Linked DNA regions of Homo sapiens: regions 1 and 3 are each linked to region 2. Evidence: fine-mapped expression QTL. A gene starts in region 2. Each other region holds a variant in brackets. All regions are shown on one strand. Distances are between the middles of the regions.

Region 1 (7,581 bases), 220 kb before region 2:
GTGCAAAAGCTTTTAGAAATGTTCTGAAGGCTATTAAAAGAGAACTGAGGCCAGACACAGTGGCTCAACTATAATCCCAGCACTCTGGAAAGCTGAGGTAGGAGGATCGCTAGAAGCCAGGGGTTCACAACCAGCCTGGGCAACATAACAAGGCCCAGTGTCTACAAAAAAAAAAAAAAAAAAAAAAAAAAAACATTGCCAGGCATGCTGGTACATGCCCTGTAGGCCTAGCTACTCAGGAGGCTGAGGTGGGTGAATTGCATGAGCCCAGGAGTTTGAGGCTGCAATGAGCTATTACTGCACCACTGCACTCCTGCCTGGATGACAGACTGAGATCCAGTCTCAAAAAACAAACAAACAAACAAAAAGCAGGACTGAACATCAGGGATAGCATTCAGTCTCCCTCCAGAGCCGGGTTACTACTGGCAGCCACATTTCCTTGCCACCATCTGGAAGTACTGATTCAACAGTGGACCAGAGGGAAAAGGCAGCCAGTTTCTTGTAGAATTCCAAACTTCAGTTCCTGTAGCACCTGGTTTCCATAGGGGTTTCATGTCCAAGTCTGATTAAACCACAATTCATAGACTATAGAAATGTTAACCCTGGGAGGAGACAAACAGCATCTAAGCCAGTGATTCACATACTTAGGGATTTCAGGACCAGTAATATTTCAAAAAGAAAAATATCAGGGCACCAAAATAGAGTTGCTCATTTTTTTCATAGTCATTTGCTTTTGCAAAACAAAGACATTTAAAATAGCAACTACCATTAATTATCAACATCATTTCATAACTTCAATAACAAAAACGTAGGAAGGACATAAACTTGGAACTTAAAAATTAAATAAATTTAGTTTCATAAAAACTTGTCACTTGGTTCTTATTTTGTCCCAAGTTGCTAAAAGCTTCATAGACTGAAATTCATTTACAGACCATTGTTTGGGAACAATTAGCTAGTTTAATTCCTAACAGCAGACCCTTAGAATCCGCTCTGTTGTGACCACAGCTGTTCTCCAATAAACCAATAATCTAAAACTCAGTGAGATTCTTTAAGGAATGAGATGATTTACTGTGCTTAAAGAGGACATCAAATGAAACTTGTAGCAATCATTGTTTTGGAAAGCCAAAAGACCTGAAGTAAATTAAATGTGTTTATTTTCTATTTTTTTATCTTTGAAAATCCTTTAGCATAAAACATTATAAAAGGTAAATAAAACATACTTGGGGAAAAATGACCATGAAATCAGCCTGTTTGAGAATCTTCACCTTTGCCTAGAAGCAATAATAATGTTAATGATATACTTTCCTGAGCTTGGGAAAAAGCAGGCTCATGAATTGCAGCCTTGTGAAAGAGGGATTTACTTGACTCCTATTGATTCCAGAGATCAGAATTACCATAAATGGGCAGAAATTTTAAGAGAGGCAGTATATAGATAAAGATAAGAACTTGTTTTTAGAGGCATAACTTCTTAAGTAAATTCAAAGATGACTGGGCAACTTCATGGTATGAGAGGCCAACCTATTCTGGAAGTGCTTAAGCAAAACCTGGTTAACAATTTGGCAGCTTTACTGAAAAGGGAAATCAAGGTAGTAGATTAGCTCAGATAACCTCTGAGAAGCCATCTAACTCTAAGAATCTAGGATTCCTTTCCCATCCTAGCCCTTACCAGCCAAGAATCAATAAAATATTAGTCAAATACTCGAGAATAGACACAAAATTCTCTTGAGGATGAATATTAATTGCACAATTTCAGAACACTGACAAGTCGGTAATCATCAGTCTTTTTTTTTAACTGTTAAGTTCAGGGGTACATGTGCAGGTTTGTCACATATTTAAACTTGTGTCATGGGGGTTTGCTGTACAGATTATTTCATCACCCAGGTATTAAACCTAGTACCCATCAGTTATATTTCCTGATCCTCTCCCTCCTCCCACCCTTCAACCCCTCTGTAGGCCCCAATGTGTGTTGTGTTCCTCTCTATGTGTCCATGTGTTCTCATCATTTAGTTCCCATTTGTAAATGAGAACATGTGGTATTTAGTTTTCTGTTCCTGTGTTAGGTTTTTTTTTGGTGGGGTGGTAATTTAGGATTTACTTTTGTAAAACCATGTAGACAAATATTAAATGTTATGCTTGCATTTTGAACATTATAAATATGAAACACAAAACATCCAATGTTAAATACTGATCTCCTATGCCTGATCTAGATTTAGATATTGAGTATTTCACATTTTACAGAAAGGAACTTTCAAAGTTGGATCAATACTTATAGTATGTACTATTATTCAATAAAATCTTCTTGAAATTTAAAAGGCTGAAATTTAGTTTTTTTTTCTTAAATATGCTAAAACGTATCAGTTTGGATTAACCTTCAGATTTTCAAGCCATGAAAGATATACAGGCTGGGCGTGGTGGCTCAAGCCTGTAATCCCAGCACTTTGGGAGGCTGAGGCAGGCAGATCACGACGTCAAGAGATAGAGACCATCCTAGCCAACGTCGTGAAACCCCATCTCTACTAAAAATACAAAAATTAGCCAGGCATGGTGGCATGTGCTGGTAGTCCCAGCTACTCGGGAGACTGAGGCAGGAGAATTGCTTGAACCCAAGAGGCAGGGGTTGCAGTGAGCTGACATCATGCCACTGCACTCCAGCCTGGCGACAGAGCAAGACTCCATCTCAAAAAAAAAAAAAAAAAAAATGCTCTAAGCAAGCATAAAGAGTATTTTGGGTCAAGTTACTTCTTTGTACAAATAATACATTGTATCAATCAATCTTTAAAAGAAATTCTTAAAAGCATTCAAAAATGCTTGCATTTTATAATTCTCAAACAATGTATTTATATTACAGAAGATACAACAAATTTTACATAAATAAAAAATCTCACACTATATTCTCAGTCCTAAAATAAAAAAGAACTTTGCAAATTAAAGAATTATCAATGTTGTTCAGAAAACATACCTTACTTTTACTTTGAAATTCACTTTAACTGCTTGACATATAATTTAATACTTAAAAATAATATAGCTAAATTATTTTATAATATTTATAGAATATTATTTCTCTGAGTAGACATGTTTCACACAACAGTTTCCAATTAATGCAGATAATTCATTTGATAATTTTAATCACAATTTATGATAGACTGATTAATGGATTAAAAATTTATTCAGTAATTTAGATGCCATAAGAACCATTGAAAGTAATAATCTGATAATTACTCATTGTACAATCCTGCCCATTAGTAATACTAAGCCAAGAATCTGATCGCTATCACATTCTGTTGAATTATGTTTCCATCTGTGTGATTGGTCAACAACAAAAAATAGATACACAATATCATGCTTTTTCCTTTTCCTTTTTTTTTTTAACAAGCAGCTCAATGATTTGGAGGGTTGGTTAATACAATACAGAGAATATAGGGAGAAAGTATAAAATGGCACCTAACACCAATGCCAGTACTTATCTCATTATGGTTATACCTAAGGATATTATTAATATTTGTGTTATTTGCTTTTCTTTAGAACTTAAATCAAAGCCATTAACTTGAACTTGAGGTATATACACAATACATATACAACCTTATGCAAAATACTTCCCATATGT[A/G]ACATATTTTAAAATACTGGAAACTGAATATCTGTGCTGATTTGTATTTTGACTTAACGGACCAAGAAGAGAATAACACTCAACTAGGGAGGGTTATACTGATAATAAAGCTCTCAAAATTCAAAATGTCTTCCTCTCCCTTTGTACTTACCAGGGGCTACACAATGTCCTGAGAGGATTCATTATGAGAAAAATGTGATTCACAGCTTTAATAACTTACTTTGGAAAAAACTAATGAGAAAGCAGATTGGAAGGTGAGACTTCATCTTTGTTTTCAAATAAGTGGTCTTACTTTTTCTTCTCATAGAAAAAGTTTAAATCAGTTGATTATAAATATATCTAAATCTTTAATTGCTGCAGCTTTCAGGTAAAGTTTAGCACTTCATTTATACAAAGTCTATGAGAAGAGGTCAGTAGAGATAATCTAATCTTAAGTCGTGACATTAACCATTCAAGTCCTTGGCACAATCCCTCACCAGTTAGAGAACAGCATGCCTGGATATGCCACTGGTGATCTTTAATAGATGTTAGCTTCACAAACTGGGAGATTTCTGCTACAGTTATGCATTTTTTAACATCTTGTTTATTAGCAAAAATCAGTAACCCAGCTTTTCTTAGGTCCTCATGTGCTAACATTTTATAGAGTTCTCTAGTTACAGAAATCCTCTCTCTGTCTGTACTGTTCACAGCAACTATACAGACTCTGTGTTAGTATAGTAAGTGTTTCAGGAAGAACGAAGAGATTCTTGGCCACCAATATCCTCCATTAGGAAATGTATATTATTATGATTATGATTATTATTATTATTTGAGATACAGTCTTGCTTTGTCACCCAGGCTGGAGTGTACTGGCACGATCACAGCTCACTGCAACCTCCGCCTCCCAGGTTCAAGCAATTCTCCTGTCTCAGCCTCCCGAGTAGCTGGTATTACAGGTGCGTGCCACCATGCCCACCTAATTTTTGTATTTTTAGTAGAGACGGGCCTTCACCATGTTGGCTGGGCTGGTCTCAAACTCCTGACCTCAGGTGATCCACCCACCTCAGCCTCCCAAAGCGCTGGGATTACAGGCGTGAGCTACCAGCTGGAAACATGTATTATTAATCACTATCTCTTTTACATTACTTCCTATTGTAGGAGATGTATGTACAACTTCATTCACAGAAAACTGTTAAAGGATGGTAGTTTTCCCTGCACTATCCAGCCCAATAATGATACTTTTGTGCTCCTGGTGATTGAACAGTCTCCATATCCTGGTGAAGAGAATTCCCATTCTCGGGCAGTGGACCCTGCCTCCAGACACCCAGACCGCCTGGCCTCCCTGGCTCAGGCTAAGGGGGTGGCAGAGAGAGACACACTGGAGCCTCTGCCTCTGCAGCTGCTCCCGCCCTGGTTGCTGGCCCACTTCCAGAGAACCAGAGGGAGGCCAAAACCCAGGTCACCCTGCCACACGCGAGTCCCTGCTACTGCCACACACTCACCTGGCTCGTGGACATTGCCACCAAGTTGTCTGCAACGAGCCTCGCAAGCCACCGTCCTCCCCATTCATGTGTTAGTTTGCTAAGGATAATGGCCTCCAGCTCCATCCATGTCCCTGCAAAGGACATGATCTCATTCTTTTTATGGCTGCATTCCATGGTGTATATGTATGATGTTTTCTTTATCCAGTGTATCATTCATGGCCACTTAGGTTGATTCCATGTCTTTGCTATTGTGAATAGTGTTGCAATGAACATGTGCATGCATGTGTCTTCATAATAGAATGCTTTGTATTCCTTTGGGTATATACTCAGTAATGGGATTGCTGGGTTGAAAGGTATTTCTGTCTTTAGGTCTCTGAGGAATCGCCACACTGTTTTTCACAATGGTTGAACTATTTACACCCCCACAAACAGTGTATAAGTGTTCCGTTTTCTCCACAACCTCACCAGCATATGTTATTTTTTGACTTTTTAATAATCGTCATTCTAACTGGTGTGAGATGGTATCTCGTGGTTTTGATATGCGTTTCTCTAGTGATTGGTGATGTTGAGCTTTTCTTCACGACTGTCGGTTGCATGTATGTCTTCTTTTAAACATGGGCAAGGACTTCATGTCTAAAACACCAAAAGCAATGGCAACAAAAGACAAAATTGACAAATGGGATCTAATTAAACTCAAGAGCTTCTGCACAGCAAAAGAAACTACCATCAGAGCGAACAGCCAACCTACAGAATGGGAGAAAATTTTTGCAATCTACTCATCTGACAAAGGGCTAATATCCAGAATCTACAATGAACTCAAACAAATTTACAAGAAAAAAACAACCCCATCAAAAAGTGGGCGAAGGATATGAACAGATGCTTCTCAAAAGAAGACATTTATGCAGCCAAAAGACACATGAAAAAAGGCTCATCATCACTGGCCATCAGAGAAATGCAAATCAAAACCACAATGAGATACCATCTCACACCAGTTAGAATGGCAATCATTAAAAAGTCAGGAAACAACAGGTGCTGGAGAGGATGTGGAGAAATAGGAACACTTTTACACTGTTGGTGGGACTGTCAACTAGTTCAACCATTGTGGAAGTCAGTGTGGCGATTCCTCAGGGATCTAGAACTAGAAATACCATTTGACCCAGCCATCCCATTACTGGGTATATATCCAAAGGATTATAAATCATGCTGCTATAAAGACACATGCACACGTATGTTTATTGTGGCACTATTCACAACAGAAAAGACTTGGAACGAAACCAAATGTCCAACAATGATAGACTGGATTAAGAAAATGTGGCACATATACACCATGGAATACTATGCAGCCATAAAAAATAATGAGTTCGTGTCCTTTGTAGGGACATGGATGAAGCTGGAAACCATCATTCTCAGCAAACTATCACAAGGACAAAAAACCAAACACTGCATGTTCTCACTCATAGGTGGGAATTGAACAATGAGAACACATGGACACAGGAAGGGGAACATCAAACACCGGGGCCTGTTGTGGGGTGGGGGGAGAGGGGAGGGATAGCATTAGGAGATATACCTAATGTTAAAGGACGAGTTAATGGGTGCAGCACACCAACATGGCACATGTATACATATGTAACTAACCTGCACGTTGTGCACATGTACCCTAAAACTTAAAGTATAATTAAAATAAATAAATAGATAAAAACTAAAAAAAAAGTTTCTGTTCACTTCCTTTGCCCACTTTTTTATGGGCTTGTTTTTTTCCTATAAATTTGCTTAAGTTCCTTGTAGATGCTGGATAGTTGACCTTTGTTGGATGCATAGTTTGCAAAAATGTTCTACCATTCTGTAGGCTATTTACTCTGTTAATAGTTTCTTTTGCTGTGCAGAAGCTCTTTAGTTTAATCAGATCCCATTTGTCAATTTTTGCTTTAGTTGCAATTGCTTTTGGCATCTTCATCATGAAATCTTTGCCTGTGCCTATGTCCCAAATTGTATTGTCTAGGTTGCCTTCCAGGGATTTTAAAGTTTTGAGTGTTGCATTTAAGCCTTTAATCCATCTTAATTTTTATATATGGTATAAGGAAAGGTTCCAGTTTTAATCTTCTGCATATTGCTAGTCATTTATCCCAGCACCATTTATTGAATAGGGAATCCTTTCCCCATTGCTTATTTTTATCAGGTTTGTCGAAGATCAGACAGTTGTAGGTGTGTGGTCTTATTTCCAAGTTCTGTATTTGGTTCTACTGGTCTATGTGTCTGTTTTTGTACCAGTACCATGATGTTTTGGTTACTGTAGTCCTGTGGTATAGTTTGAAGTCAGGTAGTCCTTCAGCCTTGTTCTTTCTGCTTAGGGTTGCCTTGGGTATTCAGGCTCTTTTTTGGTTCCATATGAATTTTAAAATAGTTTTTTTTTCTAGTTCTGTGAACAATGTCAATGGTAGTTTAATAGGCATAACACTGAATCTATAAATTGCTTTCGGCAATATGGCCATTTTAACCATATTGATTCTTCCTATC
Region 2 (7,581 bases):
TTTCAAAAACGGCTGAATTCCTTCTGTACCCTAATCACAGGAAGGCAAGAAATAAGAAAAACAGAAAGGCACTTTGCCTAGAATTTTAGCAATGAAATATGACTCTGACCTTTAATAATCTATGAACCTGGCTGAATTTTCTCAAAAAACCTGCTGCATCTACACCCCGCAGGAACAGCCTGTTAAGCAGTTTGGGCTACCAGCTCTCAGCCTCCAAGACAGCCGCCCAGCAAAAGGCCGGCAGCTGGGTGAGAACAACCTGGAGAACCCCCTTTGCGCAATGAGGTCAGGAGTTCCACACTGCAGTGTCTCCTCATCTGAAGCTTCCAACTTTTCATTTTCAGGCGAGGTGCAACCAGGCTCTCCAAATCTGCCCCAACGCGCGCGCGCGCATACACACACACACACACACACACACACACACACACACACACACGAACACACAGACACACGAACACACAGATACACAAACACAGCGGGTGCTTGCTTCCGCTCCCCAAATAAAGAATGGTAATCAAGTTTCTCACCATCCTCATAGTTTTTGAGATAGTAATCCGGGCCCGGGCCCCCGCGGCTTTTCGCCGGGTTCCTCAGGTTCTGGAACTGCAGGAAGTCGGTCCTTTTGCCCCCGAAGCGCAGAAAGGCGGGCGAAAGTCCCCGGGCCAGGGTCACCAAGCGCTTGGAGCTGCAGAGGAAGAGAATAAGAGAGGAAAGGTTCCCAGGACAGGACGAGAGCGCGTGGGGCACGGAGAAGGGCCCTCTTCCTACTCCCTGAGGGCGACCTGGCCGGGGCTAGAGGCTCTGTGCCTGCCCCAGCCGGCAGTCCACGCTGGCCCTTGGCCGCTGCCCTGCGCCCCAGCCCGCCCTCACCGCCCGGCTCTGGGGGCTGTGCCTCCCGCTTCCAGACGCCCGCAGCGGCCCCCTCCCGCAGACACCCAGATCCTGATCTCCTAAAGGCTACAGATAGTGTTTGTTCATAGAGTGTTTGTATGGGGTGGGTGTACGTGCTACGAGCACGGCGCTAAAGCGCAGTTGCCCGGCTTCTGCCACTGCCAGGAAAGCGCTCCGGGCGGAGACGCGCTAGGCGCGCCTACCTCTGGCTTCCGACCGTTGCCAAAAACTTGTATGCTGAAAGCCGGCATTGCCTCCGCAGCCCCAGGGGCCCCACAAACCTCCGTGCAGGAGGTGAAACCTGCCTTGTTTCTCTCAGACCAGGCCCGGCGCCTGAGCTTAAGTGGATTCCTACTTTCTTTCTTTTAATGTCCGAGTTGATTTTCCTTTTTCACTATATTGTAAAAACTGCATTGTTTCCCAAATCCCCGGACGGAGAGATCCCCAGGGTAAACCCTCGCCTTTCCAAGAACACTTCTCCACTCCCGCACCACCACCACCACCACCACACACACACACAGTAAAGGCAAAGTCTCTTTGGCCCCTGAAATAATTCCGCCTGATCTCAGGAAAGGTAACATCCTCCTCCCCACCCCACCCCCGAGTTAGGCTCCATCTTTCTTCTTTCCCACTTGGGGCCGTTTGGAACCGCTAGGGAAAATGAAGCTTGCCGAAATGTGGAACCTGCGCGTTATGGGATACTAAATGAGCACAAAACAATAGCATTTGCATCTATTTAAGGTCAGGATTTCCATCAATAGGTTTTTTAAAAGCCAAAGGCTGCTGCTTTGGGAAGGAGTAGAAAAGGAGCAATGCAGATACTGATAATGCAGAGGGGATCAGCTGTTGAGTTCCGGGTCTGTAAATTATTTTTTAACGCTTTACTGTTTCAGATTCTGAAAACCCAAATCCACATGGTGACGTTAAAGAGCATCATAAAGGAGGTGGATACGAGAAAGAAAAAACAGACTCTGCTTTTGGAGAGTTTTTTGAGAAGAGACGTGGCTACCCCAGGGTCTTGTAACCAGAATGGTCGTTTGGCAGAAGTCTCCGGGACCGCACTCCAGGACAGGCACAGTCAGGGCGTCGCGTGGGCCTACTGTGGCAAAGGAGACGTCCGCGCGAATCCGGTCCTGGGGAAAGGGCAGTTCCAACAACCTTTCATCCAGAAGCCTGCACAGCCAATGCGAATGCGCCCCGCCAGGACTTCTTCCCCGAAAATCTGCCTTCCAGACTCTTTTCTGAGGCAGGAAAGCATTAGGCGAACAGGCAGATTTTTTAAAAAAAGAAAGAAAGCTGGTGGGGGAAAGGGGGTCTGCGCAGCTGAAGGAGTTCAATGAAAGTGGGACAAGCGTTGCGGAAAACTCCGTTGCACCCTACATTCGGACGAGCTCATAGACGCGCTCTGCTGCACGAAAGAGCTTTCGAAGAGGAAGCTGGGCCGCGCGGAGCTGGCTGTTCCGCCCTCGCGGCAACCGCACCAACAGGAACCGAAACGGCCTCGGCAAGGGCAGCTACAGCCTCTCAGTCCTCCGGCTACCTTTCCTCCACGTGGAAGGAGCGCTCCACGTGGCGCCTCCCGCTACCTGCCGCGTCCGCAGACCCGACCCGGGCCAGGGGGACAACCCCAAGAGCTGAGAGGCGGGCGCACCTCAAGAAGCAAAACTCGAATTTCGCAAGGAGTGAAAAATACGAAGGACGCACAACGGACCTGGCCTCGGGGCAAAGTGGGACTGAGAGCGCTGAGGGCTCTTCGAGGGGAACCCACAGCTGAGGCTCCAACTTGTAGGGAATTTTTAAAAACTCAACACTTGGATTCGACATTGCAGAGGATTTATTTCTTATTTTACACTGCAACTCTGTCCCTGATGGGAAGGGATCGCAGTTGCCTAACTGCCAAACTGCAACAACCCGGGAAGAGTGTGAGCCCAATTAGATTACAAGCCCTAGAGCAAAGGGGATCACAAACCTCCGGGTTTGCTAATCTGCTGGTGCGGAGTTCAGATCTCCGAAGCCTCCCTGGAGTATTTCTAGGACTCTTACCGCTTCCCTTATAACGCTGTGACCCCAGCGAGGATTTTTTTTTTCCTTTAAAGAAAAGCTAAACTGTGCAGTTACCGCAGGAGATTTAAGGAGGAGGAACTGGCGGGGGGAGGGGGGCATTCCGTCTATAAAAAGCGCCTTACAAAGTCCTGAAGTCTGGAAATGACAGCGGAGGATATAAAATAAAAAATTTTAACTCCGATCCAACTTGCCCACCACTCAAGCCTCTGCTTAAATTCGTTTTCTGAGAGTGGGAGAGAACTGACGAAACGATCTTTCCGTGGAAAATTCCAGTTTCGTGCAATCCCGCTTGAACACTCACACACACACACTCTCCTGTCTCACATACACACACACACACACACACACACACATACCCATTCCTTTCAGCTCTTTGTTGTTTGAGACCTTTTCTTCGCTTTTGTAACTGCTCTGAACCTCTTGTTTCTTTTTCAGAAGTAGACGGGAAGGCTAATTGTGGATATATGTAAGCACAACATTTTTTCAGTCATAACTGATAAGTTTCTGAAATGCCTTCTGCATTGCAAACATGTGCATCTTAATAGAAAACATTGCTTTTCTCAATCACTAGTTACAGCCTCACAGCACACAATCCAGGAGAAGGAAAACCTCTTTTCTTCTCTTTGAGAGATCTGCTTGGCTTATTTTCTTCTTTCCCCTTTGGAATGGGGGATAGGAAGGGCTTGAGGGGGTGTTACTAAAAAATTTTAAATGATCCATCGAAACCCCTGCCTTACCTTAGGAAATCGAGCCAGCCATCATGAATGATGGACGGATCCAGCTGCAGAGAGAGGAAGTTCTCATTGACTGTCCTGACTGGGTTCTTGGTGCTCACATCAAGTAGAATCAGGGTCTTTTCCTTCAAACCTGCAGCTCTGTCTACAGGCAAGGGTCTCCTGTCTCCAGCCTGGGAGGAAAGGGAGAGATGGAGCAACAGAGCCAAGTAGAGAGCCCCCGGGGCTAGGCACGCGGGGGGGCGGGAGTTGCTGGAGGGCATGGCTTCAGGGAAGGCACAAAGCACCCTCATTCAATCCCTCTGATTTAAACCTCTCTTCCTACTGGGTCTCGCTAGTGACTAATTGTCCTTATCTAAAGTGTGTGTCTGTCCGCCTTTTTCCCCCCTTTTTTTCCCTTCCTCCCACCACCCCCCCAACACACACACACTCTCTCTCTCTCCCGCTCTCTCTCTCTCTCGCTCGCTCGCTCGCTCGTTTTGTTTTTTTCTTTTTTTTTTTTAATTTTTTTTAATTTTTTTTTTCAGTGTTTTGGTGCTGGTGGAGCGAACTCACGCCCCTAGCCAGCCTTCCCCGTGACTCTTGCCAAGAGAACTCGTACACCGGCACCGCCCCTTTAAGAGATTTCTACTGCAGACATTTTTTAACTTTTTAAAGGTAAGGGGAGGGGAGCAGGCGGGAAGGAGGAGAAAAGGGTGGCGTTGTACCCTCCTAATTTAACCCTCTAGGGTCAGGAAGCAGAGGGAGGAATCCAAACCATGCCGTTGTACCGTCTGGGTACAGAGCAAAGGGTCTCGTTTTTACGTCCTTCCCTGAGAGGCTCTGGAGGGCGGTTCAAGCTCCGACTCCGACCCGAAAGCCCCAGCGCCAACCCGGGACGCGCTGGGATAGAGTTCCCACCGACAGCACGCTTGTTTCTCCTGACAGCGTCAGGCACTTCGTCCGCTCAGGGCCCTTTTCTGGTTGAAGCAGCAATACCAAGGGCGGTTAAGTTGCAGAGGGGTCTTGAGGCGGTGATTCCTGTCAAAGCATAGAGCCCTGAAGGACATTCCCCGAAGAGGAGCCCTGATCTCTGTGACGCGTTGGATAGCCACACCGAAGCATCCTCTGACCTCCATAGGGCAAAGAGTAGCAAGAAGGAAAAACATAGTGACCTGGTCAAGCAGCTTTTCCGATCCGAGGGCCAAAAGGGACATGCGCCCTCGCTCTGCTCTGCTCTTCCCGCAACCGAGGAATAAGCGTCTTGGGAGCGTCAATACATGCTGGCTTTGGCCAAGTCGAAGCTACCTGAGCTGTGCTTGGATAGTCAGGGCGGCTCTGCGTCCAACTGTGCCACTTCTTGGCCACTCTATTCTGCTGCACAGGTAGAGTCCCCCCTCCAGACCCTCCTGGAGGTCAATCCTATACTTAGCCCTCCTGCAGGGAAGTGCGCCTTTACAGTGCCAGATGGGACCATAGTGACACTTTCGGGTTTCCATCTCGGCCCCCAGTCAAAACCAGAGTCACATAGCCCTGGATGGGGAATAACAGCCGGAAGCCGCTGTGATGCACGACCCGCCGCTGCTCATTGAGCTTCCACCCCACAACAGCTTGCAAATTGAACTCTAGGTCCTATCCTGAAGCGCGGGAAAGGGATCAGGCACAGTTTGCTGCAGTCACATTGCTGGGCCCCACTTTCGGCTTCTTTCTGAGACAAAATGGGACTTCTACTTGGCAGATGAAGGGAACTACTTTATGTAGTGCGGGCAGTCAGAAACGCAGAAGCGTCCAGGGCCCTCCTTGGTATCAAACAAGCAAAACCCTAAAATGCAGAGCAAGGGTTTTCCCCAGAAGTGGATGGACAAGGGTTAGTCTTAAAGCCCAGCAAACGCTGTAATAGCAACCTGTATCCTCTTACCTCCACCCAGACCAGGATTAACAAATCTGAAAACAGCTGGAATAGATGACCTTCAACTGAAGTTCCCTGAAAAGCCTCTACCAACCTAAGCACCCAGGAAATCGAGATTATGTTGCATTCATCTGTGAAGCGCCATGACGACCTTCTAGAAATAGGACTGCATAAGATGAGGATATGGGAGAAAGCAAATGCAAGTCATATTATTTAAAGATGATTTTTTTAAATCAAGCTGTTACATAGTGAAGTATTGGATGTTGGCTCCAGCCCTAAGGCCTGTTTCCTTCAGTTCCTGAACATTTCTAAGACATCTAGATCCTTTAAACTGTGTGTGTGTGTCTGTGTATGGGTGTGTGGTGTGACATAAATTTCAGTCGAAATTCTTGTAATTTTTAAGTATGTATTGAGCACCTCTTAGAGATGGCAACAGCCTGGCGGGCAAACACTTTTGCCTTTGTGTTCCCAGACTGGAGCACTTAGTAGGCACTCAATAAATTCTGTGAAGTAAATTAATGGTAAATCCAATCATGCTCAACACACTGAAATAATATGCCCCTCTCCAGAACAATGTGAAAAATAAATACTTTTATTTGTCATAGTAAATTATGTTTTGGGTCTCTGTTCAATAATTTGTTTTCCCAGTTATTAACATTTTCCTGGCCATCTCCTTCAAAAAATACTTAACGTGTAAAGCCATTAGTTCATTTGCTATACTAAGAATTTTTAAAATTATATATTTTTAACAATGAGCCAGATTTTCCAAGGGCCTAAAATACCCTTGGCTTACAAGTGAATGCACTTTTAGAAGCCATGTTAATTGGGACCAATGGAAGACAATTTGAATACGTATATCCACTAGATGTCTATAATTAATACCTTTCAAAAATACCTATTCTTGTGACCAAGAATGAACTTGAGTATAATGAGAATGCACATAATTATGAATTTTCACCATTTTTGCTTACTGACCTAACTACTCTATAATGGTTTATTGGCCTAACTAAGTAGTATTTAATGTTTTCATCAGAATCTGTATGTGGTATTAAAATCAAAACCAACAAAACAAAGTGCTTGTTTTCTTAATTCCTGATGAAAACCATTTCTCTAGTCTAGCCATTGAAATTCTAAGTCATTCTATAGAGGACATCAGGGGAAAGAAATAACTGATATTTAAGAGGTTAGCCCTCGTTGGTCTCTAAGATGATTTGATTGTTTGGTGCTTTGGTTTAGTTTGGGTTTAGATCTCCAGAGATACTCTGCAAATAGCTGCCACACATATACCATATCATGGTTTTTGTCTTGCCTCTTATCTATTAATATGCTGTAAGTAGTTCATTAGTAATCAGTATATTAGATTGATGTTTCTATCCTATCTTCTGTGTGCTAGGTGACAGCAATCTGCATCTCTGTTTTGTCTTAGATTGTAACTTCCTAGAAGACAAGTATTGGGCCTCTGTATAAAATATGAACTGTCAGGCCAGGCACAGTGGCTCACATCTGTAATCCCAGCACTTTGGGAGCCAAGGCAGGCGGATCACCTGAGGTAAGGAGTTCGAGACCAACCTGGCAACATGGTGAAACCCCGTCTCTACTAAAAATATAAAAATTAGCTGGGCATGGTGGTGGGCACTTGTAATCCCAGCTACTCAGGAAGCTGAGACAGAAGAATTGCTTGAACCTGGGAGGAGGAGGTTGCAGTGAGCCAAGATGGAGCCATTGCACTCCAGCCTGGGTGACAAGAGCAAGACTCTGTCTCAAAAAAATAAAAAGTAAAATTAAAATTAAAAAATAAAATATGAACTCTCAGGAACTAGATGCACTGATGTCTCCTTGGAAACGCTCTGCTTAGTGTCTACTGAATGGTCTTCATAGATAAATTGCTTTGATATCTAAGAGCCCAGGTTCCCAGAACTGTAAGAAAACGTGAAGATTAACTGATTCAGTGATTTCTAGACTTTGTTTTTTCAAAATAAATATTAGTTAATGGGGAGGAGTGGA
Region 3 (7,581 bases), 700 kb before region 2:
TCATAGGGTTGTTGTGAGAATTAAATGAATTAATACTTATAAGTACTCCATAACTGTTAGTTGTTTTTTCATATTGACATTTAAACCAAGCAAATATATTTTAAGGTAAATTAGCCCCAGAAGGTCCTTATTTCTATTTTTTTCATGTGTTTAATTCAGAACTCTTTATCTGGATTTCAAGAGGGCCCTTCCTAAGCCAGGCCATGTGCAATGTTTGCCTGTTTAACATGACAGACCCCTAATCTATCGCTAGGGCTGAGAAGCTCTTTGAGAGCTTGGAGAAGAAAACTCTCCTGTTCCTATGTTGGGAGTCTCTAGTATTTCTTCAACACCTCTCCCAAATTGTTTGTTATGTACGAAGCTTCAGAAATAGAGAAGGTACATCAGATCCTACAACACAAAGGGCCAGCACAGAAATCTTGAAATGCCTATTGCTATAAAGGGAGTTGGGAATGGGAAACTCATGGACCCTTGAATCCAGCCTGGGTTGAATTCTGCCTCTGCTTCGTGATCTTGGGCCCATACCTTAAGCACCCTTTGCCTCACTTATCTGAAAAAACAAAGATGATAAAGATGCCTACCTCAGGGGGTTACTGAGAGGACTAAATAATACATTTTGGGTAAAGCATTATTATTATAGTGCTTGATACATAATACACACTCAATAATATTAGCTCTTGTAGCATAATGTAAAGAAGACCAGATTGGAAGTTGAAGTTACAGAGTTTTCGTCCAAGTGTGTCACTATTAATCTCCAATAATAATTGTTGGAGCTGCACTTTCTTTTCTGTAAAATAAAGGAGTAGGAGAAGATGGTTTCAAAAGATTCTTCCAGGTATAATCAGCTTTTTTTAGCCTCTATCATCTTTCCTTTCAGAGGGCAGAACAATAGCTTCTCTCTCTCTCTGGGATTCAGGGAATAGACTGCAGACCCTGGAAGAGCTTCCTTTTATTTGTCTATTTGGCCTTTATTGCTTCTGGCCTTACTGATTTTCAGGGATGAGGGCTGACCTGATTCTTTCTCTTTCATGGGCCTGAGCCTATTTCCATTTTAACAGATGCTCTGGGCTTACTTTGATCCCTTTCTATTTTGATATTCACTGAAGAACTAGAACTAGATATGTGTCTTCTTGGAGCCTCAATCTTCTCAGTTGTAGAGACTGGATGATCTCTAAGATCCCTTCTAATGCCAATGTTCTATGAGTCTGTGAATCCAAACTGGTACCCCTTTCCAGCTGAAGTTTGGCCTTGACTGCTACAAAGCTGGATGCATTCAAGGGCAGTGTGGGCAACAAAGATTTCAGCCAATGGCGAGGACTACAAATGAAGCAGCTGTAATGTCAGGAAGCATCACCATAATTTGAGGCTCAAACAGCGTAAAGTAGAATTTTATAGAAGGTAGGCTTTTGGAGGTGTTTATGGAAGTCACAATGGGACAGTTTGAAGATAGAATAATGCCTTAATACAAAATTTCCTGGCTTTCTTTTGAGTCATTGGAACACAGTGTTTATGTTTCGTAACGTTAATCACATGCAATTCTTCTAAATCTGGGATCTAATGGATGCAAAAATTGGTCCAAATGTCAATTTTAAACATATGTTTTTTATATTGAATAGACCTGTATAGTTCCAAACACCAGTTAACTCTTTGATGAAATTAGGGTCTGATTTTTTTCAGAGGTGGTTCTGATTGCTATTCAAGAAAGAAGAAAACCTTAGATCACTCCAGCAATGGGGTCAGCTGAGGAAGACTATTTCCTGAAACAAAGCATGAAGCCTGGGATAGCTCAGTAAATACTGCTCACCCTAAGTAATGGATGGAGTTGGGAAGCTGTCCGGCAGACTTTGGTAGACTCTGGAAATTTGAAAATCGGACAGAACAATGAAAGCCAACGTGAGAACCCTTTCATGGGGACTTTAAATGCAGATGGAGAACATGCTGATTTTGTTGGTCATTAATAGTCATCTGAATTTCAAAATGACCATTTTCATTTTTTTCTACTGATGTGAAACAGTTTCACTCAGTCCTCAGAGAGCAATTAACCAGACTTTTTGTTGGTATCCAACAACTGTGCTTGTTGTTTTGTCTTAAGAAAAGGAGGCTGGGAGATGACTTAGCCTTTCAGGACAATAAGAAATTTACAGTTTAAAAAGTGACAGAAATAGGGTTAGACATAAGTTTTTAAATGCCAGGACATCACAATGAGAACTGGCAAAAACCATGATATGGAGGAATGGGTGGCATCTGCTCTGAAGATCTGACAACTACTATCTGTTTTATCCTACAAGGAAATGGAGGACAATTTGATTCTTAAAGTTCCTTCCCACTTGGTGCTTCAAATAACACTGCCATGACTCATAACCATTTGGATATTTAAATTGGAATTGTCTTTTGAGCCAATAAAAGTTATGGAAGAAATCTGCCTCATAGTCATAACCTGAGATTTTTTTCACCCCAACTGAAATTTCCCAGTTTAATTATTCACTTTATTCATTAGAATTTTTAATTTTTTTTTTTGAGGCAGAGTTTCACTCTTGTCGCCCAGGCTGGAGTGCAGTGATGTGATCTCTGCTCACTGCAACCTCCGCCTCTTGGGATCAAGCGATTCTCCAGCCTCAGCCTCCCAAGTAGCTGAGATTATAGGCGTGTGCCACCACACCCGACTAATTTTTGTATTTTTAGTAGAGACAGGGTTTCACCATGTTGGCCAGGCTGGTCTTGAACTCCTGACCTCAGGTGATCTGCCCACCTCAGCCTCCCAAAGTGCTGGGATTACAGGCATGAACCACCGTACCCAGCCTATTCATTAGTTTTGGCATCAAATAACTTTTGTCTATTTTGAAAAATCCAGCTTAGCACTAACAGGTAAGATTAGTGATGGATAAGGTACCAAAGAATGTGCTATAAACTTGGAGAGCAATTCCTAAAGAGATATTTCCAGATATTTTCAGCAAAGGCAACATCAATAAAAGAACTAGAGCCTTCTGAAGTGACTTTTTTTGAAGAAAGCTTCCTTCATTTGGGTATATAAGCTCTAAGATGTTTGATAAAAAGTTAGCATGTTACCTCCTAAGCTTACTTCATGTGTAAGGAGAACCTTCCCTTCCACCCGCCTCTCAGATTTTAGGAGAGCAAGTGAAATGATTCAACTTTGTGGGTTACCTACAGAAAACAACTTCATACTATATTTTTACTACTGTCTTTGAAACCTGCTTTCCTATCCGTGAATGTCCGTCTTCTCAAAGCAGATTTCTTAGCTTTTAGATAATAATGAACAATTTTATTTTCAGATTTTAAAAAGTCCAGGCAATTTTATATAAAAACTAGTTTTTCA[T/C]CCAATTTGATTTACATCTTGGACAATTTAGGCTTGACATAAATCAGAAAACTGCAGTGAGGGGAGAGGCTACATATTTTTGTTTGTTTTTTTTTTAATTCTCTTCCTACCAATTCCTGAAGGAGCAGAGGGAAAGAAGAAAGGTATAATTGGGACAACCATACTTATTGACTGTGGTGGTGTAATATGGCTTTGGTTCACCCTCTGAGGGTGATGCCAAATCATGGACTCCTCTCTTGCCAGACATTTTTGTGGGTTCTTCCAATGCTTTCCTGCTGGAAACCCCCATGTCATACTGTTTTCTTAGGCAGGCAGTATACTCTGGTGGACCACTTGAAACTCCTCTAAGCGTATACTATTGATATATATATCTCAGTCTCTTTCTGTTGGGACATGATTCTTTAAAGATAACTGAAAGCTTGGTTACCTGTTGTGGTAACTACTCTAGCCCAGGAGAGAGAGGCATCTTTGTTCTGCCCTTAGTAGAGATATAATTTCATAATACAACCACCCTCTCACCTCTTTCAACTGTTAGGGACAGTTCCAGCCTGCCTCTTCATTAGACCTTTCCAGATGAGAACCAGGCACTGGGCTCCGTGCCTGCCAAACTTCAGCACATATCAAGGCTTCCCAAGAACTCTTTTGATACTCTAGAGTGTTTCTGGAGCCAAGGAACCCTATCACTGGGCTTGGAGTGGAGAAGAAGAGCCTTCCTCCTGTTCCTACTGCCAAGTTGACACAGCTCTCTTCAAACACAGACAGAATCTTCTCCCTCATTAACCTCACAGCCCCCTCTTATATGCAGACAAAAGATGGGCAATAGGTCCCATCTCATTTGGGTCCAGAGCTGGTCTGGGGCTACCCCTTAGGAAGTCCTGCATGGACAGGTTAGCTCTAACTTCTTTTTAAGATGTATGGGCACTTTATACCCATCAACCTCAGCTTTGGGGCTTCAGGTGGAATGGACAACAGAAAAGTCCCACTTGTTACAAAAGTAAAGGCTCAATGAGAATCAGAATCAGAGTCATGGTGGAGCTGAAAGGATATTCTCAGTTTATTATTCGAAAGATCATTTCAGACACAACTATTTCTTTATTGCTTTATTTTAGGTTAGTGGGGAACCCAAACAAAACTGCTAATGAAGCAGGGCAGGTGGAAACCATTGAGGTGATGCTGGAAAGAGAGAGCACTTCAATGTGAACAAAGAATCCTGATGGTCCTTCCTTCTGAACTGTGAAGGCAAAGTGAAGTGCAGACGAATCTCATTACAAGAGATAGGGAAAAAAGGGGAAGGCCAGAGTTGGTGGGGAAACATCAGGAAGTGTAGTCATGTTTGCCATCTAAGGCCAAGGGAAACAGAGTCAGGTAAGGCAGGAGAAGATTCATAGCTCTGAATCAACAGATTCGTGCTGGAGAATTAGCTCATTGCCAGGGAAGAGAACGTCTAAAGCTTTAAGTACATATTCACTGTCTCACCCATGCACACACATGCCACAAATGCTTCCTGGTGCTGACTCTGTACCAGGGACTGTGGTAGGCACTGGGATTGCAGCCATGAATGTAAGAGAGTTTACTCAGAGGAAAACAAATAAACCACATTCAAGGGACTAAAATAAGTTCTGTTTGGCTGGAGAACAGAGCGCAAGAAGAAGGATGGCACAAGATGGGGTTGGAGATGTGGGTAAAGGTCAAATCATGCAAGTCTCTGTGGCCCATTTTAAGGAATCTGAATTTTATTCCAGAGGCAGTGAATTAAAGGGTTTTAAGAAGGTGTTAACATACACTGTGTTTTATAAAATATTTTTGGCCTCAGTGTAGAAAATGGATTGAAAGAGAGGCCAAAATAAGTTAAGGAGACTTGGGGAGTAAGATGAAGGAGTAAGTTAAGTTTCTAACTCAGGCAATTGTGTGACAGTGATGCCATTTGTTTAGATAAGGACGTTAGAGAAGATTCAAACTTATGGCAAGGGAATGGAGAGGTAGGGGAATGGAGATGTTGAGCTTACATTTAGATAAACATGCCTGTGAAACATCCAGTTGTTTATGTCCAGCAGAAAGCTGAAGGCCAGAAGAGAGAAATGGTCAAGACATATGTATTTGTGAGTGTGGGCGGAGGATTACCTAGGTGCTGAGGCAAGAGACTGAAGGCACAAACTGTTTCAGTATAATAAAGAAAATAGTTAGAATAAGAATAGTCATAATACAAATTAGATATAGAGATGACCATGAACAATTATCAATCATTATTATAAACATTATTAATCATTAGCTTTTAATATTACTCTTTGTTGCATTACTAATATAACCTAGGAATAACCGGCGGGTATAGGGTCAGGTGCTGAAGGGGCATTGTGAGAAGTGACCTAGAAGGCAACAGGTGAGCCTTCTGTCACGCCCGCATAAGGGCCGCTTGAGGGCTCCTTGGTCAAGCGGTAACGCCAGTGTCTGGGAAGGCACCCGTTACTTAGCAGACCGCGAAAGGGAGTCTCCTTTCCTTGGAGGAGTCAGGGAACACTCTGCTCCACCAGCTTCTTGTGGAAGGCTGGATATTATCCAGGCCTGCCTGCAGTCATCCGGAGGCCTAAACCCCTCCCTGCGGTGCTGTGCTTCAGTGGTCACGCTCCTTGTCCACTTTCATGTTCCTCCCATACTCCTGGTTCCTCTTTGAAGTTCATAGTAGATAGCGGTAGAAGAAATAGTGAAAGTCTTAAAGTCTTTGATCTTTCTTATAAGTGCAGAGAAGAAAACACTGACGTATGCTGCCTTCTCCTCTGCTTCGGCTACCTAAAAGGGAAGGGCCCCCCATCCTGTAATCATGTGACCTGCTTCACCTTGTCAATCACTTAGAAGATTCACCCTTCTTACCCTGCCCCCTTGTCTTGTATGCAATAAATATCATCGAGCCCAGCTGTTTGGGGCCACTACCGGTCTCTGCGTCTTGATGGTAGTGGTCCCCCGGGCCCAGCTGTTTTCTCTTTATCTCTTTGTCTTGTGTCTTCATTTATTACAATCTTTCGTCTCCGCACATGGGGAGAACACCCGCTAAGCCCCTTGGGCTGGACCCTACATGTGAGTGACAAATAGATAATAGTCTCCTTTTCTGTTGGGCTTTCTTCATCTTTTTATGGGTCCTGACAATCTCGAACCTTCCTGAAACTAGGTTTACCTAATATTACCAGTAGATTTAGGAATGTATTTATTGGTATTTTACACTAGTTTCTTGAAGCAGCTAAGAGCAAACAAGGCAGTTATTTATTCCCTATGTCTATATAATGTCCCCAGAATATCTCATTAAGAAGGCCTAGGTCAGTTGTTCTCAACCTTACTGTACACTGGAATCATCTGGGGAGCTTTAAAAAATACTGATAAATGGGACCTACTCCTGACTCCCTGCCAACTCTGCTTTTGCTGCCTGGGAATTGGATTTTTTTAAAGCTCCCCAGATGATTCTAAATGTGTAGCCAAGCTTGAGAACAACTGACCTAGATCCTACTTAATTAATGTGGCTTTTGATTTTGCATCAGCATTTCCAAATAAAGGACATATATTCATCTCTAGAGAACTGCTTGTTTAGCTTAATGGAAGAATTGCAAAGTTTGAGCAGGCCCTTCAGGGATACAAGTGAACAGAGGCATAAGCATACGCATTTGCGGGGACAGTGAAGACACTGATGGGGCCATAGCCAATGGATTCATGTGTATTGTCAAGTACTTTGACACATCTTGTCTAAATTGTCCATAGGTAGCCAGCAACGTAGGCTGGTTCTCTCCTAGCAGCGCCAAACAGAAATCAGAATACTGTTCTCCAGAATTACTGACCCATTACATAGGGGAAGGCAAAACATGACTGCTTGATATTAGGCTCAGGAAAGTGGTAAAGAGGTTGCAATCAGTTTTTGGTCCTCTCTTGTCAAACCATTTTATCAACAAATCAGCCCCACAATATTTAACAGTCTGGTAACTGCAAGGCATGACACTTACCCTTCCTTAAAAAGCATGTTAGGCTGGGCACTGTGGCTCAAGCCTGTAATCCCAGCTCTTTGGGAGGCTGAGGCGGGTGGATCACCTGAGGTTGGGAGTTCGAGACCAGCCTAACCAACATGGAGAAACCCCGTATCTACTAAAAATACAACATTAGCCGGGCGTGGTGGTGCATGCCTGTAATCCCAACTACTTGAGAGGCTGAGGCAGGAGAATAGCTTGAACCCGGGAGGCGGAGGTTGCAGTGAGCCCAGATCACGCCATTGC

What was found. PIP is the estimated chance that this variant, and not a neighbour inherited with it, causes the effect. A credible set is the group of variants that fine-mapping cannot tell apart.
Region 1: its variant is the best candidate, but not a certain one, in a credible set for the expression of HPSE2 in lung (TOPMed, PIP 0.53).
Region 3: its variant is the best candidate, but not a certain one, in a credible set for the expression of HPSE2 in whole blood (TOPMed, PIP 0.61).

Annotation. Positions count from the first base shown.
Region 1 is chr10:99,009,076-99,016,656 of GRCh38, forward strand. All of the region lies in intron 3 of HPSE2 (heparanase 2 (inactive)), which reads right to left. It also overlaps the pseudogene ARL5AP2. Among named protein-coding and RNA genes, the nearest start is that of MIR6507, 88 kb to the left of the region's middle. The variant A/G (reference allele first, on the strand shown) is at 3,605.
Region 2 is chr10:99,231,821-99,239,401 of GRCh38, forward strand. It overlaps HPSE2 (heparanase 2 (inactive)), which reads right to left and starts at 4,032. Exons shown (of 12, transcript NM_021828.5): 1 at 3,693-4,032; 2 at 528-685. The coding sequence starts at 3,982. RefSeq lists a silencer at 2,342-2,461 and enhancers at 4,609-5,109, 5,110-5,610.
Region 3 is chr10:98,531,905-98,539,485 of GRCh38, forward strand. The region is part of intron 9 of HPSE2 (heparanase 2 (inactive)); the gene reads right to left. Among named protein-coding and RNA genes, the nearest start is that of HPS1, 89 kb to the left of the region's middle. The variant T/C (reference allele first, on the strand shown) is at 3,335.